2 separate regions of the Homo sapiens genome follow, and region 2 is linked to region 1. Evidence: fine-mapped expression QTL. A gene starts in region 1. The other region holds a variant in brackets. All regions are shown on one strand. Distances are between the middles of the regions. Region 1 holds the start of XPO1 (exportin 1). Region 2 overlaps USP34 (ubiquitin specific peptidase 34).

The links.
Region 2: its variant is fine-mapped to the expression of XPO1 in whole blood (TOPMed, PIP 0.90).

The regions. Positions count from the first base shown.
Region 1 is chr2:61,534,773-61,543,109 of GRCh38, reverse strand. XPO1 (exportin 1) reads left to right here and starts at 4,754. Exons shown (of 25, transcript NM_003400.4): 1 at 4,754-5,548. RefSeq lists enhancers at 3,412-4,201, 4,770-5,029, 6,124-6,183, 6,904-6,963 and a silencer at 4,140-4,279.
Region 2 is chr2:61,226,750-61,235,086 of GRCh38, reverse strand. USP34 (ubiquitin specific peptidase 34) reads left to right here. Exons shown (of 80, transcript NM_014709.4): 58 at 2,555-2,635; 59 at 5,454-5,539; 60 at 6,092-6,260; 61 at 6,368-6,442; 62 at 7,869-8,020. Among named protein-coding and RNA genes, the nearest start is that of C2orf74-AS1, 53 kb to the right of the region's middle. The variant G/A (reference allele first, on the strand shown) is at 4,759.

The sequences.
Region 1 (8,337 bases):
TGCTAAATGTCTTGTTGGGGAAGTGCCCTCAGTTTGAGAACTACTGAAATAGATTCACTGACTTTGCTAGGTTCTTCATTTTTTTCTAGTCAGAGCACCTGATAAAATAGGTTTTTTGGTTTTTTTTCTGATTTTTCTTTTTTTTTAAATTTTCGTTTATTTTTCACATTTTTCCATGACTCCATATATAATTTTTCTTTTTTTTAAAGACAGTCTTGCTCTGCTGCCCAGGCTGGAGTGCAGTGGCTTGATCACAGCTCATTGTAGCCTGAATCCTGGGCTCACGGGATCCTCCTGCCTAAGCCTCTTGAGTAGCTAAGACACAGATATGTGTCATCATGCCTGGGTTAATTTTTTTAGTTTTGTAGAGCCAAACTCTCATTTATGTTGCCCAGGCTGGTCTTGAACTCCTGGCCTCAAGTGATTCTCCCACAGTAGTCTCCCAAAGCACTGGTATTCCAGGCGTGCACTACCACGTCTGGCTAATTTTTTGTATTTTTGTAGAGATGGGATTTCGCCATGTTGGCCAGGCTGGTCTCAAACTCCTGACCTCAAGTAATCTGCCCGCCTCAGCCTCCCAAAGTGCTAGGATTACAGGCATGAGCCACCTCGCCCAGCTCATTTTATTTTTATTTATTTATTTATTTTGAGATGGAGTCTCACTCTGTCACCAGGCTGGAGTGCAGTGGCATGATCTCGGCTCACTGCATCCTCTGACTCCCTGGTTCAAGCGATTCTCCTGCCTCAGCGTCCCGAGTAGCTGGGATTACAGGCATGTACCATCACGCCCAGCTAATTTTTGTATTTTTAGTAGAGATGGGGTTTCACCATGTTGGCCCAGATGGTCTCGATCTCCTGACCTTGTGATCCACCTGCTTTGACCTCCCAAAGGCTGGGATTACAGGCATCAGCCACCACCATGCCTGGCCCATAATGAGATGTTTTTGTGCAAGAAAGAAATGGCATATCTTTTCAATCCACAGATACCAACTTTAGTTTCCCTACTCTATTTTGCTTCTTATATATTGCAACGGACAGAATATTTGTGTCCCCTGAAAATCAGTATGTTGAAATCCTAAACCCTAATGTGATGGTATGAGGAGATAAGGCCTTTGGGAGTCAGTAGATAACGAGGGTAGGGTCCTCATGAATGAAATTAGCGTTCTTATAAAAGACACCCCAGAAAGCTCTCTAGCCTTTTTTCCCCCTTCACAAGAGAGTACAGGAAGAAGTCACCGGTCTGCAACCCGAAGAGGGCCTTTGCCAGAACCTAAACCATGCTGACGCCCTGGCCTCAGACTTCCAGCCTCCAGTACTGTGAGAAATAAATGTTGTTTAAGCCACCCAGACTATGGTACTTTGTTACAGCAGCCTAAACTGACTGTTACAGCAGACCTATAACCCTATCTCATTATTTTTATTTTTGGCCTAGAAGTACTTCAACCAAAACAGCTATAGCTTCCTCTGTCCTGTCTGAGAATGGTCCAAGTTAAGTGATACACTTCTCTCATTTCTCCATGAGTAAGAGATTCTTGGGACCCATTGTTCAATGTCACCTCATAGAAGAACTGTACAGATTTCTCAGACTATCAAACTGTAACTCCTAGATTTAGCAGCCTTGTCACCTACTTTTTCACTATGTTCTCAAAAGGTAGCAACTCACCTGCAGGCAACTGCTGATTCTGCTCCTGATTGATTTGAGGCTTCACAGACTCTACGTAGATTATTCACTGGGGTCTTAACATCACAGACAGAATACTCATAATTTTCCATAAATATTCTCCACACTAAATTGAGCTTGATGGAAATAGGGGTGCAACCCATACTTTATCTTCCCAGGTCAATTTTTTCTTGAAATGAGTATCCTGACTGGGCAAGGTGGCTCAGGCCTATAATCCCAGCACTTTGGGAGGCTGAGGCAGGAGGATCACTCGCCTACAGGAGTTTGAGATCAGCCTGGGTAACATGGCAAAACCCCTTTCTACAAAAAAAAAAAAAAAATATATATATATATATATATATATACACACACACATATATTTACATTTATATGTATATATTTACATATATATGTATTACATATATGTATATATTTATAATGTATAATATATATTATATATATATATATTTATTTACAAAAAACTAGCTAGGCATGGTGGCATGCATCTACAGTTCCAGCTGCTCAGATGGCTGAGTCAGGGAGGATCCTTTCAGCCTGGGAGAGACACAGTGAGATACTTTTTCCAAAAAAAAAAAAAAAAAAAGATCCTTTCTCTCTCACCCTGTTTTAGCATCATACACAATCACACTTTTGTCAGAGTTAGATTGGTAATTTTTTTTGAGACAGTGTCTCACTCTGTCACCCAGGCTGGAGTGTACAGTCTGCATGATGGCATCATCACAGCTCATGCAGCCTCAACCTCTCAGGCTCAAGTGATCCTTTCACCTCAGCCTCCCGAGTAGTTGGGACTACAGGCGCATGCCACCATGCCCAGCTAATTATTGTATTTTTGGTAGAGACCAGGTTTTGCCATGTTGCCCAGGCTGGTCTTGAACTTCTGGGCTCAAGTGATCCTCCCACCTTTGCCTCCCAAAATGCTGGGATTACAGGCCTATGGTAAAATTGATTTTGTTATATGTCCTTGTAGGTTTTTTTTATTGTTGTTTGTTTGTTTTGAGAACGAGTCCCGTTCTGTTGCCCAGGCTGGACTGCAGTAGCGTGATCTCCGCTCACTGCAGCCTCTGCCTCCCGGGTTCCAGCCATTCTCCCCGCTTAGCCTCCCGAGTAGCTGGGATTACAAGTGCCCACCACCACGCCAGGTTAATTTTTGTATCTTCAGTAGAGAGGGGTTTCACCATGTGGCCAGGCTGGTCTCGAACTCCTGACCTCAAGTGATCTGCCTGCCTCGGCCTCCCAAAGTGCTGGGATTAAAGGCATGAACCACCATGCCTGGCCTATCCTTGTGTTTAAAGTCGCAGTTTCCAAGATCCTCTCCATGACCATGTTAAGTGAGGATTTACTGTATTTGCATATACTGTATTTGTAAACTTCCCGTTACTTTCATCTCTAGATTGCTTATAATACCTTATACGATGTAAACTTTAAATCATCTCTACATTGCTTATAATGCCTTATACAATGTAAATGCTATGTAAATATACTGCATTGCGTTTTATTTTGTATTATTTTTATTGTTGTTGTTGTTTTTTAATGTTTTCCACCCAGGGCTGGTTGAAACTGAGGATGGGGAACCCAGGATACAGAGGGCCCACTGCACATCATATATCATACATAGTACATTATATATGTATTATATATGTATATAAAATGGCTTGATATTATTCATTTATGTAATGAATAAAAACTTAGGTCTGAAAATCATCCAAAATAATTCTGGTACATCTAAACATTGAGTTGTTGCGTTTTTCTTTATTGGAGGGGGAGTTAGAATAAGTGGTGCTTTGAGGTTAGCCATAGTCCATCGTGGATGAACATTTGCTAAAGAAAATTGTTATTAATTCAATAAATCATTTATCTACCTCTTGGTGGCACAAAGGGCCTAGTAAATTTTGGTGGGCTATTTGCTCTTAAGCAAAGAACAATCTGTAAAGCTGATTTGGAGGACGCTTGGGAACAAACGAGAGGCAACCACGTGAAAGGCAACGTGCATGTGACTTTCACAGAAAATACTATTTGATGATGATTTAGTACGTGAAGTGCAGCTAGGGTAAAAGGAAAATCTGAGTGTTGCAGATCAAGGGCACCAGGTGGGACGCAGTTGGCATGCAAGCTCAGCCAGCCAAAACATGCGCTGTCAAACCAATCACTTGGGATTACAATGTTTTGGTTTTCAGGAAAGGTTGCTTGTTGAAGCAGCCAAATTCCAGCCTGGAGAGACAGAGTTGAAATTTTAAGGAGACTTTCCCAAGAAGTATTTCGATATCTTTTCCGACACCCTGAGAAGATCACGAGGCGCCAAGAATGCACGCCCTGCGCCTCACCCCAACCCCTCTCTCAGCTACCTGGCCCCAAAACCAGGCCTCTAAAATGGATTAGAGAGGTCTGGGGCCTAAAATTGGCCTCGGAAGCGTTCTTTTTCCCTCTTTTCTCCACCCCTTCCAGAGTTCAAAACTGGGTGTGCCCTCCCTTTTCCGAACGCAGCCCCCATCCGAAGGGCGGATCCTGATTCCCGCGGGCTCAGGCCCCCGCAGGTTGGCGGGAGCCGGTGGGGGCGGGCCGGCCGAGTCCGGGGGAAGCAAAGAGAACGCTGCCGCGCGCCCCGATCAAACTCGCGCCGCCACCAGCTCACGAGCTGCGCCCCACCCTCTCCGTCACCGAAGAGGCCCAGCCAATGAGCGGGCGAGAAAGGCCGGGCCTGCGAACTAGGCACCGGGAGGGAGAGGGCCGCAGGGGGAAGGGAAGTCGAGAGCTCGAGGGCGGGCTGCTCTTGATTGACAGCTCGTTCGAACGAATCCTCCACGCGGCTTTCCTTCGCTCTCTTTTCTACTCATCCCTGCTCTTCGTCCCACCTCCTCCTCCTCCACCCCTCTCCTCTTGCCTTTCGACCCTCCCCACTTCCCCTCCCCCACTCTGCGGGCAAATCGCTGCTGAAAAGAGGTAGGGGCCGAAGCGGCGGGCTCGTGTGGAGCCGTGAGGCGGGATTGACTGGCGCTCGGGCCAATGAGAGATAGGCTCATGGCGCGGCTGTAGCTGGAACTGACCAATAGGAGGGCGGGCTGGGGGCGGAGGCCCAGGTTCCAAACGCTCCGCGGCGCCATGGGCTGAAAACTCAACCGAGATGGAATCTCCCAGTCTGAACCGGTTTCAACCGGTTCCGAGTTTGAGGCACTAGGAGGAGGGGGAGAAGCGGCTGCAGCGGCCGCGGCAGGAGCAGCGGGAGCTACAGCATCAGCAAGAGCAACAGTAGCTACAGCCCCGGCGGCGGTGCCTGTTCCAGTCTTTGCTGCTGCAGTCCGTGCAACCACCCAGAGGGGGAGGGGGGAACCACCAGTCGCTGAGGAACAAGAGAAGGGGGGAAAGTTTAGGCGAGCCTTGGGGGGGGGGGGGCCAGCGCCGGAGCCGCGTGAGAGAGGGAGCCGTGTTTTGGTAGGGGGGAGTCGGACTGCAACTGGCAGCAGAGCGTCTCCCCGGCCGTGTGGACTCTACACCCCCTACTCCTGCCGCTTCTGCTGCTGCCTGTGGCTGGAGGGTCCCCCTGGGGCTGAATCTTTGGGACTTGACCCCGTTCCCTCCCCCTTCCCTCACTCCCCAGCCGGGCGGGAGCATTTATTCCCCAGATTAATTCCCCTTTTGGGGGGGGGCGGGTGTGTGTGTGTGTGTGTGTGTGTGTGTGTGTTGGGGGAAGCGTCCCTGAAATAGTAAATATTATTGAGCTCTTTTTGCCCTTTTCCTGTCCGTTTTTTTAATTTCCTTTTTTGAGGTGGGAAAACTGAAACCCACCTTGATTCGTCCCCTCTCCCCCCTCCCCACCTTCCCTCGCCCTAATCCCCCAACGAGGAAGGAAGGAGCAGTTGGTTCAATCTCTGGGTAAGTCGACTGTGTCTTCGGGGCCGAGGGTCGGGCGGCGGCGCGGCCGGGCGGGCGGGAGGAGGCCGGCGTGGGGCGCGGCGGCGGCGGCCGCGGGAAGCGAGCCCGGGAGGCGGCGGGCGGGCCGGGGGCGCGGCGGGCCCACAGCGGAGCCTGCGATTGAATGGAGCCGCTTTTGCCGCTGGGGGATGGAGGCGGGGAGGCGGCCTCGGGAGGGGAGCGCTTGCTGGGTCATTCGCGTGTGCGGGTGGCGGTGGAGGAAGGCGAGGAGTGTGATAGTGAAGCGGGGCCCCGCGCGGGGTGGGAGGGGTTCCCCAGCCCCTGGGGCTGGGGAGAAGTTGGGGTGATTTCAGGAACATCTCTGTAAATTATTAGGAGTGGAAGTTTCCAGAAATATTTAGTGCAGCAGCATTGAAACGTCCGCCTGCATCACGTGGCCCCCTCGGTGGAGAGCTTGGGATGGGGGAGGGAGGGGCTGCCGACTCCCTGTTCCTCCAGCAAGGAAACTCGAAAGCTCTCCGGTTTTGCAGAGTGGCATGTGAAGTAGGAAAGATCAGTTTTTCAGGGGCCTGCACATGGGATTCCGTCTTGTAGTTCCTTTTCAGGGGTTTGAATGTGATAAGTTGGTTAAACCATTTACTGTTGGCCTTGTACAGTGGAGGATGCCCTGATTCTCCTTCATTCCGATGTCTGTGAGTTTGGGTTGGGTGGGAGGAAGTGGTGTAGTAGAGGAAGCATTCAGTACTGGCTCAGCCCGGACCTCCTCTGATCACGCCGAGGCCATGCTGCATAGAGAAAGGGGCGGTGAACTTAAGGCGCCTGGTCTAAATGCCTCCTCCGAGTAAGGGCGGGGTGAGTGCGTGCTCCTGTGTGCTATAGTTAGAAGGGCTGCAAATCGGTTCGGGTGGGAAGCGAGGGGAGGGCGGGCCCTAATGAGGTGTGTTTTTCCTGAATGAAGCGGGCGATTGCCCACACAACCTAAGGAGCAGTCTTTCGCCTTGTAGCGACTTGTTTTTCACCTAGTGTGAAGTTATTAAGCAACGGTTATGATTTTCTGGGTTTTGTTTAGGAATTGGCATTGGGTGTCACTTGTAGAGTCACATTATCCATTAAGCTGGATAATCCCTAGTGTATGTTATCCAGTGAGTGGATTTTAGGATTGAAGAGCCCAATGGGAATGAGCGTTCGTGGTTACACCTCTCGCACTATGGCTTGTTTGCTGTCTGATTGTATATCTTAAGTGTGGGACACTGCTGTTAGTGGAAAGAATGTTTTGGAAGCGGTTTGATTTGGGGGACTAAATGTGCTTGGCATTGACCACAAAGCCGCCATTTCTGTACTATGTACAGTTCAGGAATAGGTAGGTGATTTCGAAGATAGCCGCTAGTTCTAAGGATGGCAAACTACTGTATTTAAATCCTTCTATTCTAAATCTCGTTTTTCACATCAGTCTAGTTCGGAGAATTTTATAAGAACAGTGTATTTGAAAATGAAACTTGTAAGAGTCATTTTCTTAATCCTTTTTTGTTTTAGCATTCAACTATGGTAGTAAATAGGTGAAAAGTTTGTTCAATATTTAACCGAAATATTTGAAAACTTTTGATACATGGATCTTGGTGCTTTGTGGACATTGCTTTTAAGCCTCAAATAATTAAGATTGTTCTGATCTTTTAAATTTTATGGTACTTGAAGGTGGAGGAGAGTTTACACATTCATTTGTGGAATATATATTTCCTCTCAGTATTTAGATCTTAAGGTTTTTTTGTGGTGTGTAACAAGTATTCTGCTGTTTAAAAACGTTTGTTTAATGCCTACTACGAAACGTTTTGAAGTCTCATCAGTTTTGTCAATAATGGACCAATTCTTGAACTCCTAATTTCTTGAGTTTTACATTATTTTTACATCATATCAATCATAGGTGACTCATCTTTTGGAGTTCTAATCTGTTGTAACAGACGTTATATTTAAATAAGACAATTGCATTAAAATAGAATTTGCTGCCATTATTGTTATGGACATTTTTAAGCTGTTATAAAATAGCCAGGAATTAATGACTTTTTTTCCGCCCTGCCAAGCTAGTTTGTCTAAATATAATGTAAAGAAATTAGCTACTCATTTTCTGGTCCACGAAAGTTCCTAAAATGGGAAGAAGTGGAGATCTGACCTTGTTAGTTCTAAATACACTAAACTGGGAGTGCCATGGATGGCTTTCAGGATGTCCTGAATCCTCTATAATTGTATACAAAATCGTGAGTTTTTAAAAACTGGGTTAGAGCTATTGGTTCCTCAGAGTCTCAGGCATCTTAGACCCCCAAAAAGGTTAAGGACTACTGACTTAACCAATTAGGTTTGAGTGGCATTGGCTTTGAAGAAAAGCAGAGGAAAGATATATTTTATAATTCTGGGCAACAAAAAAGTGGATGTGTGCCAGCATCTTAGAGTAGAATCCTCTTAAAAGGATAGCACTGCATATGAACTAGTAGGTTTTAACCAGTGCATATTTAGGCGAAGTAGCTCATTTTTCTGTTAGAATTCTTTTTTATTTGGGAATGGGCAAGCTTTTACAGCTTTTACCTTGCCAATGAATACCTGGAATTTAAAAAATCTTGTTAGGCATATTGCCCATAAAGTTTTTTTTCCTAGATCATATATTCAGTAAATATGTTTGTAGCTTTATTTCAATCCCCCAATTCATTGAGGGTTGAAACAATTTGAATGGTTTGAGTGTAGAAGCTAAGTTATTTCTGTAGAGGCTAAGGGCATTTATACCAAGATATGTTAGACTTGTG
Region 2 (8,337 bases), 310 kb after region 1:
AGATCTCCTCCCTTAGCAAATCTCAAGTAAACTGTGCAAAATTTTTTAGTCTTTTTTTAAATCAGTTTTGTCTCAAAACAATACAATATTATAACTAGTGTCATGATGCTGTACATAAGATCCCCAGAATTTATTTAAAACAGAAACTTGGGACTGTGCATGGTGGCTCACGCCTGTAATCCCAGCACTTTGGGAGGCTGAGGCGGGCGGATCACTTGCGGTCAGGAGTTCAAGACCAGCCCGGCCCACATGCAAAACTACATCTCTACTAAAAATAAAATTAACTGGTCATGGTGGTGTGCACTTGTAATCCCAACTACTGGGGAGGCTGAGGCAGGAGAATCACTTGAACCCTTGAGGCAGAGAAGCAGTGAGCTGAGATCACACCACTGCACTCCAGCCTGGGCGACAGAGTGAGACTCTGTCTCAATTTAACAAAATAAAAATAAAAAATAAACCTGAAACTTTGTACTCTTTGGCCAACATCATCTTCCTATTTCTTCCATCCCTCTCTTAACTACTTTTGTATGTTGTTAGAAAATGCTTAACATCATCTGTCACTTCCTCTTTCCCCACTCTCCCCGCCAAAAAAAAATTCACCTATCCACCTGTCTCAGTAGATCAGTTTATGCCTGGTTTTCTCTCTCCATCCCCTATTTTAAGAGGTGCATCCCTAAGGATAACCCACTCAAAGGTAATGACAGCTTAATCATATTGCCATCTTAACTTCTAGGTTAGCAACCAAAGAGTTGTAAATCTCCATAGGAAGGCAAGTCTTACGAATTAACAGAAGTGGGGAATAGCAGTCTGGTATATAATAGATGAATTATAGTTAAAGGTTTTTTGCATATTTAGAAGTTCATCTGATTATACCTTATAGAAATAGAGTAAGGGAATCTATTCCTCAGAAATTTCAAACACTAAAGTGTAACTTTTTGAAATTTTGTAATGAGAATTTGGAAACATGGACAAAAGTAGAAAGGGATAATAAGCTGTCACATACCTGTTCCTCAACTTCAATAAATAATAATAATCTTTCTTTCTTGTTTCATCTATCCCCTATTCCTTTTTTTTCCATAATGGAAGAATTTTAAAGGAAACCTAAATAGATCATGCATCCATAAACACCCAGTATATATTTCTAACATAAGAAAACTTCAAAAACATATGCAACCACAATTTCATTCACTCCCAGTAATATTAGAAGTGACTTCTCATCTTTATAACTTTTTTTTTTTTTTTTACCCCCAGAGTGGGTGTCACTCTGTCATCCAGGCTGTTGAATGCAGTGGTGCACAGTCATAGCTCACTGCAACCTCAAAATCCTGGGCTTGAGCAATCCTGCCTCAGCCTCCTCCCTCAGCCTCCCGAGTAGCTGGGACCACAGGCACATACCAACACACTCAGCTAATTTTTTTTCTTTTTTTATAGAGACAGAGTCTCTTTGTTGCCCAGCTGGTCTCAAACTCCAGGCTTCAAGCTATCCTCCTGCCTCTGCCTCCCAGAGTGCTGAGATTACAGGCATGAGCCATTACACCTGGCCAGAAGTGATTTATTCTTGTCATCTAATACCCATCCTATGTTCAGTTTTCTCCATCTCAAAAAAAAATTTTCAGTTGATTGGTTTAAATGAGTGGTTCAAACAAGTTCCACATTTTGCATTCATCTGTTTGTTAAGTCTTCCTTAATCTATAAAAGTTACTTTTTTTTTCTCCATGCCATTTTTTGTCATTTGTGCTGTAGGATTTCCCACATGCTTTCTTTGACTAATTGCATTTTCCTGGTGGTGTTTAACATGTTCCTCTGTTTCCTTCTCTTCTCATGGCTGTTCGATAGATCCAGAGTTTCTCAAGTGCTAATTAGATCATAATTTGTTTTTAAACAGAAAGAAAATTAATCATGCTCATATCACATATTATTAATAGGTGGCCGGGTGACATGGCTCACGCCTATAATACCAGCACTTTAGGAGGCTGAGGCGGCCAGATCACCTGAGGTCAGGAGTTCAAGACCAGCCTGGCCAACATAGTGAAACCCCATTTCTACTAAAAATACAAAAATCAGCCAGGGATTGTGGTGCGTGCCTGTAATCCCAGCTACTCGGGAGGAGAATCACTTGAACCTGGGAGGCAGAGGTTTCAGTGAGCCGAGATCGTGCCACTGCACTCCAGCCTGGGCAACGGAGCAAGATCTGTCTCAAAAAAAAAAAAAAAAAAGGGGGGGGGGAATATATATATATATATAATTAATAAGAACTAAAGATTCTATGTCACATTTATGAGGGCTAAGAGAATGATATTTTATTATGATAAAGGACCACAGATTGTCATGCACATTGTGTACTATAATGTAAATGGCATTCCATGGAGTTGTGTAATGAGGTAACCCTTATTATGATTTTAGAGTTTGACTTTTATGACAATTAGAGAAACTTTTCTGGTAAGAACTTAAAAGAATTAAAACATTGACTAGAAATAAAATTCTTATGTGACTGTTATCCCATGTAACAAATATTTGTTGAATGTTAAAGTCATGCTGTATTTTTTTTTAACAGTGGTTTTTAGATCGTATGGCTGATGACGACTGGTGGCCAATGCAGATACTAATTAAGTGCCCTAATCAAATTGTGAGACAGGTAAGGAAAAATATGTTTGAAAAAAATTATTTGGAAAAGAAGTTACTTTCAATTTAATTATTCTCAATTTGCTTATAAGTGTGTCTTAACCTAATATTGATAATAGTTTGAAAAGATCTGCCTCCTATCATAAAAGTCATTTTGTTGTTGGTTTCACCAGGTTCTTTTAACATCAGCTCTCACTCTAATAAGGTGATTAAAATTATGCACATTTCCTGGATATAGGAAGATTGACTGTAATTTCCTGTTCTTTTATTATTAGATCCTGCTCTTTATTATTAGATGCTTTATGAGTTATACTGATTCTTTTAAAATCCTTACACATTCTAACCATGGTAGGGTACTATAGTGACCTCAAAAGCTAATGAAAAGGCTGTAACTTATTTCTGTGATTGGGTCTGAACTGTCAAACGAAACAGTTTGTTTTCTTTAAATTGTTGGGTAAAATAGACAATGAAATTTAAATATTACTTTATAGTCACTTTTCACAAAATCAAAAACTTAGTTGACGTATGCCACTTTCCAGTTACTATTGAGATATATATGCGTGTGTGTATATATTACATATATATGTTATATATCATATTTATATATTTATAAATTTATATAGAACATACATATATATGTATATATATTTTTTTAGAGGGTTTTGCTCTGTCACAAGCAGTCCTCTTGCCTCAGCAGGTAGGACTACACGCACACACCACCACACCTGGTAATTTTGTTTTGTTTTGTTTTTAGACAGAGTCTTGTTCTGTCACCCTGGCTGTAGTGCGGTGGTACTTCATGGCTCACTGCAGCTTCCACCTCCTGGGCTCAAGCAATTCTCCCACCTCAGCCTCCTGAGTAGCTGGAACTACAAGCACACACCACCACACCTGGCTAATTTTTGTATTTTTTTGTAGAGAGAGTGTCTCTCCCCTGTTGCCTAGGCTGGTCTCAAATTCCTGGGATCAGGCAGTCCTCCCAACTTAGCCTCCCAGAGTTCTGGGATTATAGTTGTGAGCCACTGAGCCTGGCCTAAGTTACAATTCTTATACCATAAAATTTACCCAGACCTTTCAAAATGTAAAATTTAGTGGTTTTTAGTATAGTCACAAAGTTGTGCAGCCATCACTACTACCTAATTTTGGAACATTTGCCACCCCCACCCCCCACCAAAAAAAAACCCTATACCCATTAGCAATCAGTTCCTATTTCATCCTGTCCTCTCTCCTCAATACCTGACAACTACTAGTCTACTTTCTATCTTTATAGATTTGCCTATTTTGACCATTTCATATAAATGGACTCATACACTATTAGTCTTTTGTGACTTACTGCTTCGATTTAACAATCTTTTCAGGATTTATTCATGTCACAGCATGTATCCATATTACATTTTCTTTTTTTGCCAAATAGTTTGTCAAATGTATATAGTCCACATTTTGTGTTACCTGTTCATCAGCTGAATATTTGAGATGTTTCTACTTTTTGGCTGTTTTTAGTAATGCTGTTAGGAACTTTTAGTACAAGTTTTTGTTTGGATATACTTTGTCACTTCTTTGTGTATGTTTTTAGAACTGGTAAACTGTTTTTTGTTTTTGTGTTTTGTTTTTTTTTTTTTTGAGACGGAGTTTCGCTCTTGTGGCCCAGGCTAGAGTGCAGTGCCGTGGTCTTGGCTCACTGCAACTTCCGCCTCCAGGGTTCAAGTGATTCTCCTGCCTCAGCTTTCCAAGTAGCTGGGATTACAGGCGCGCACCACCGTGCCCAGCTAATTTTTTGTATTTTTAGTAGAGACGGGATTTCACCATTTTGGCCAGGCTGGTCTCAAACTCCTCACCTCAGGTGATTTGCCCGCCTTGGCCTCCCAGTGTGCTGTTACTACAGCCACTGCACCAGCGGTAAACTGGTGTTTTTTGTTTGGTTGGTTGGTTGGTGTTGTTTTTGAGTTGGAGTCTCACTCTGTCAACCAGGCTGGAGTGCAATGGCGTGATCACGTCTCACTGCAACCGCCACCTCCCGGCTTCACACAGTTCTCCCTGCCTCAGCTTCCTTAGCTGAGATTACAGGTGCCCACCACCACGCCCGGCTAATTTTTGTATTTTTAGTAGAAGTGGGGTTTTGCCATGTTGGCTAGGCTG[G/A]TCTCGAACTCCTGACCTCAGGTGATCCACCACAGCCTCCCAAAGTGCTGGGATTATAGGCTTGAGCCACTGCACCCAGCTGGTAAACTGTTTTTTTATAGTGACTGCAGTGTTTGACATTCTTGCCAGTGATATATAAGTGTTCTAATTTCACCATAATCTTCAGCAGCTGATACTGTCTTTTATTTTAGCCATCCTAGAAGGTATGAAGTGGTATCTTATTGTGGTTTTGGTATGCATTTTTCTCAAAATGGTTACACATTTTTTTCATGTGATTGTGGGTCACTTGTGTATCTTTAAAGAATCCTCACATTTCCTTCTCCTAGCTGCTGACCCCATGATGAGCAGCGGCCCTTCCCCATTCCACTCTTCTTAAGGAATTGGATACTAGATTTTCTTTTCTCTGTATCTCCACTAGCTAAAAGGATTTTTTGAAGCTTTGTTTTTGATCATCTGTATTACTGAAATGTACAGTTTGTTGAGTTTTTTCTCTTTATCATAAAACTGAATTTTTTTAATGCTACCTTTGCCTCATTTCCTTAGTCCATTGTTGAGACTCCAGAAGAGCTCCAGAATACCAAGATAATCTTGTGCAAACTATAAATGGGTGGCAGAGAATTTTGAATCATGTTAATTTTTCAAATCTTTGTTACCTGATGAGTTGGCTCTTGTTTGATCTTTTTCTTTCTTCACAGATGTTTCAGCGTTTGTGTATCCATGTGATTCAGAGGCTGAGACCTGTGCATGCTCATCTCTATTTGCAGCCAGGAATGGAAGATGGGTAAGAAGTACTTTTTGAATAAGTTTGTGTGTCTGTGTTGTGTGTGTGTGGTGTTTTTGTTTTTTTTTTTTGTTTTTTTTTTTTTTTTTTAAGAGATAGGGTTTCTTCATGTTGCCCAGGCTGGTCTCAAACTCGTAAGTTCAAATGATCCGCCCGCCTCGGCCTCCCAAATTGCTAGGATTACAGGCATGAACCACCATGCTTAGCCCTAATTTTTAAGTTTCTTAACAACCTGCCTACAAAATATTTTTTAAAATCCACACTGAAATATTTGTTCTGTTTAAAAAATAATCTGTAATAATACATTCAAGAAGGTAAAACTGTTTTTGTTTTATTTAAATTTTGCATCTGCAAAATCCTCTACAAATTACTTTATGGCTTAGTCTTTTTGTTTGCATTGATTTAGCCAGTCACAATAACTACTTAAGTTATTGCGGTTCATATTCATTATCTCAAAGATAAAAGAAATTCAGAGTTTAAAAAGTACTTTTTCTCTCGAACAGTATTTCCAGACCTCATACATTCTCTAAGATCTATTTAATTGTCTCTTAGGTCAGATGATATGGATACCTCAGTAGAAGATATTGGTGGTCGTTCATGTGTCACTCGCTTTGTGAGAACCCTGTTATTAATTATGGAACATGGTGTAAAACCTCACAGTAAACATCTTACAGAGTATTTTGCCTTCCTTTACGAATTTGCAAAAATGGGTGAAGAAGAGGTGAGGCTATATCTTGTCTATTTTTTTGATTATCTACCTTTTTTCAGTATTTGCAACTTAATTGCTTTTATTTTATATTTTTAAATTTTGTTTGTTTGTTTGTTTAGAGCCAATTTTTGCTTTCATTGCAAGCTATATCTACAATGGTACATTTTTACATGGGAACAAAAGGACCTGAAAATGTAAGTACAGTTCTATCGTACATTAGGTATTAGAGGCTCTGGTTTTCATAGTTTGCATCGTGCGAAGTCCTGAGATGTTAGAACCCTTTAAAGTCCCTTCTGGAACCTGGTGTTAGATAATATGAAGGGTCTAAGATTGGTTGATGTTTTTAATGTAATTTTAATGGATATAGCAAGAAAGAAACAACTAGGTAATGAAGTTCATTCATTGGTAAGGTCTGGAACAAAGCAAATAAACTTAGGCAAAGTGGTCACCTACTTTAGGGTCTTATCAATAGTGAATTGTTTTTGTGAACATTTTGCTGGTCACATTTTTAAGTTCTTTGCTATTAAGTTTATGAGAGTCTTTCCAAAATTTAAGTAGGTGGTCTATGAATAATATTAAAGTATTACATCAGTTTTGTGTTGTTCATAACAAATGCATTAGGTTGTATGATCTACTTGCACTCTTTTTCAGTCCTTTTCTTAACCATAAGAGATAAGTACCCTTTATATCTCCATTTAACAGATGAGACAATTGAAACTTAGAGAAGTTAATTTGTTTTAGATCACAGTGACTTGTTGTGCTTTGATCCTCGGTCAGACTACTGAGCTAAAACTCTTAAACACTGTTTTGTAATGCTTCACAGAATATACACTAGTAGATCATAAAATCTTTTGAGTCTGCATTTAGAAGCCCAAGTGAATATCTCTTTGAAATACCCACTATTTGGATTATCAGGGAACTATAAATAAGAATTTCTTATTTTGTATAACTGGCATTTTTATTAAATAGGAAATACTATTTTATCATACTTGCAATTTTTATCGTGACTTGTCTTCCAATGAGCTTGCTTATAAGAAAAAAGTTATTCAAGGGTTTATAGGTAAGGTAAGTAGTCAGTGTTGAGGTTTTTTGTTTTTTTTTTGTTTGTTTGTTTGTTTGTTTGTTTTTGAGACAGAGTCTCACTCTGTCTCCCAGGCTGGAGTGCAGTGGTGCTATCTCAGCTCACTGTAACCCCCACCTCCCAGGTTCAGGCGATTTTCCTGCCTCAGCCTCCCGAGTAGCAGGGATTACAAGCGCGTGCCACCACGCCTGGCTAATTTTTGTATTTTTAGTAGAAACGGAGTTTCACCATGTCGGCCAGGCTGTTCTCGAACTCCTGACCTCAAATGATCCACCCGCCTCAGCCTTCCAAAATGCTGGGATTACGTGAGCCACCATGCCCGGCAGAGAATTGTTATTCTTTACAGTTCTGGCAGTTTAATCTAAGATTGTCCTGAATGTGGTTTAGAGTGTTTTACATTAGGTTTAGGTCTTTGTGCAGTTGTTTTTCATGTTACAAGCTCCTGCCACCATCTACACTGTTACATAAAACAAGTCATTTGTTCTCAAAATGATATTAAAACTACTACCGTATTAAAATTGAATTTTATTCCAACTTAGCCTCAAGTTGAAGTGTTATCAGAGGAAGAAGGGGAAGAAGAAGAGGAGGAAGAAGATATCCTCTCTCTGGCAGAAGAAAAATACAGGCCAGCTGCCCTTGAAAAGATGATAGCTTTAGTTGCTCTTTTGGTTGAACAGTCTCGATCAGAAAGGTGAAATGTTTCGAATTTAAAATGTTTAAAGCATGTTTGGTTTTATTATTTTTACATAATTGTTTACCACTAGTTTTTCCACTAGCTTTTTATTATATATGTTTAATTATGTAATTGTTATTCACTAGCTTTTATTATATAAATCCTTTTAAATAATACTACTATTCATCAACTCTTGTGGCATAAGAATTTCAGTTTTTTCTACCAAACTTTTACTTCATCTATGAGTCGTGTTAGAAATAGTCATTGAAAAAATATACAGTAAAATATCTAGCAAAATAGAGCGTGCATTCGTTCTTTAACCTAGCAACTTCATT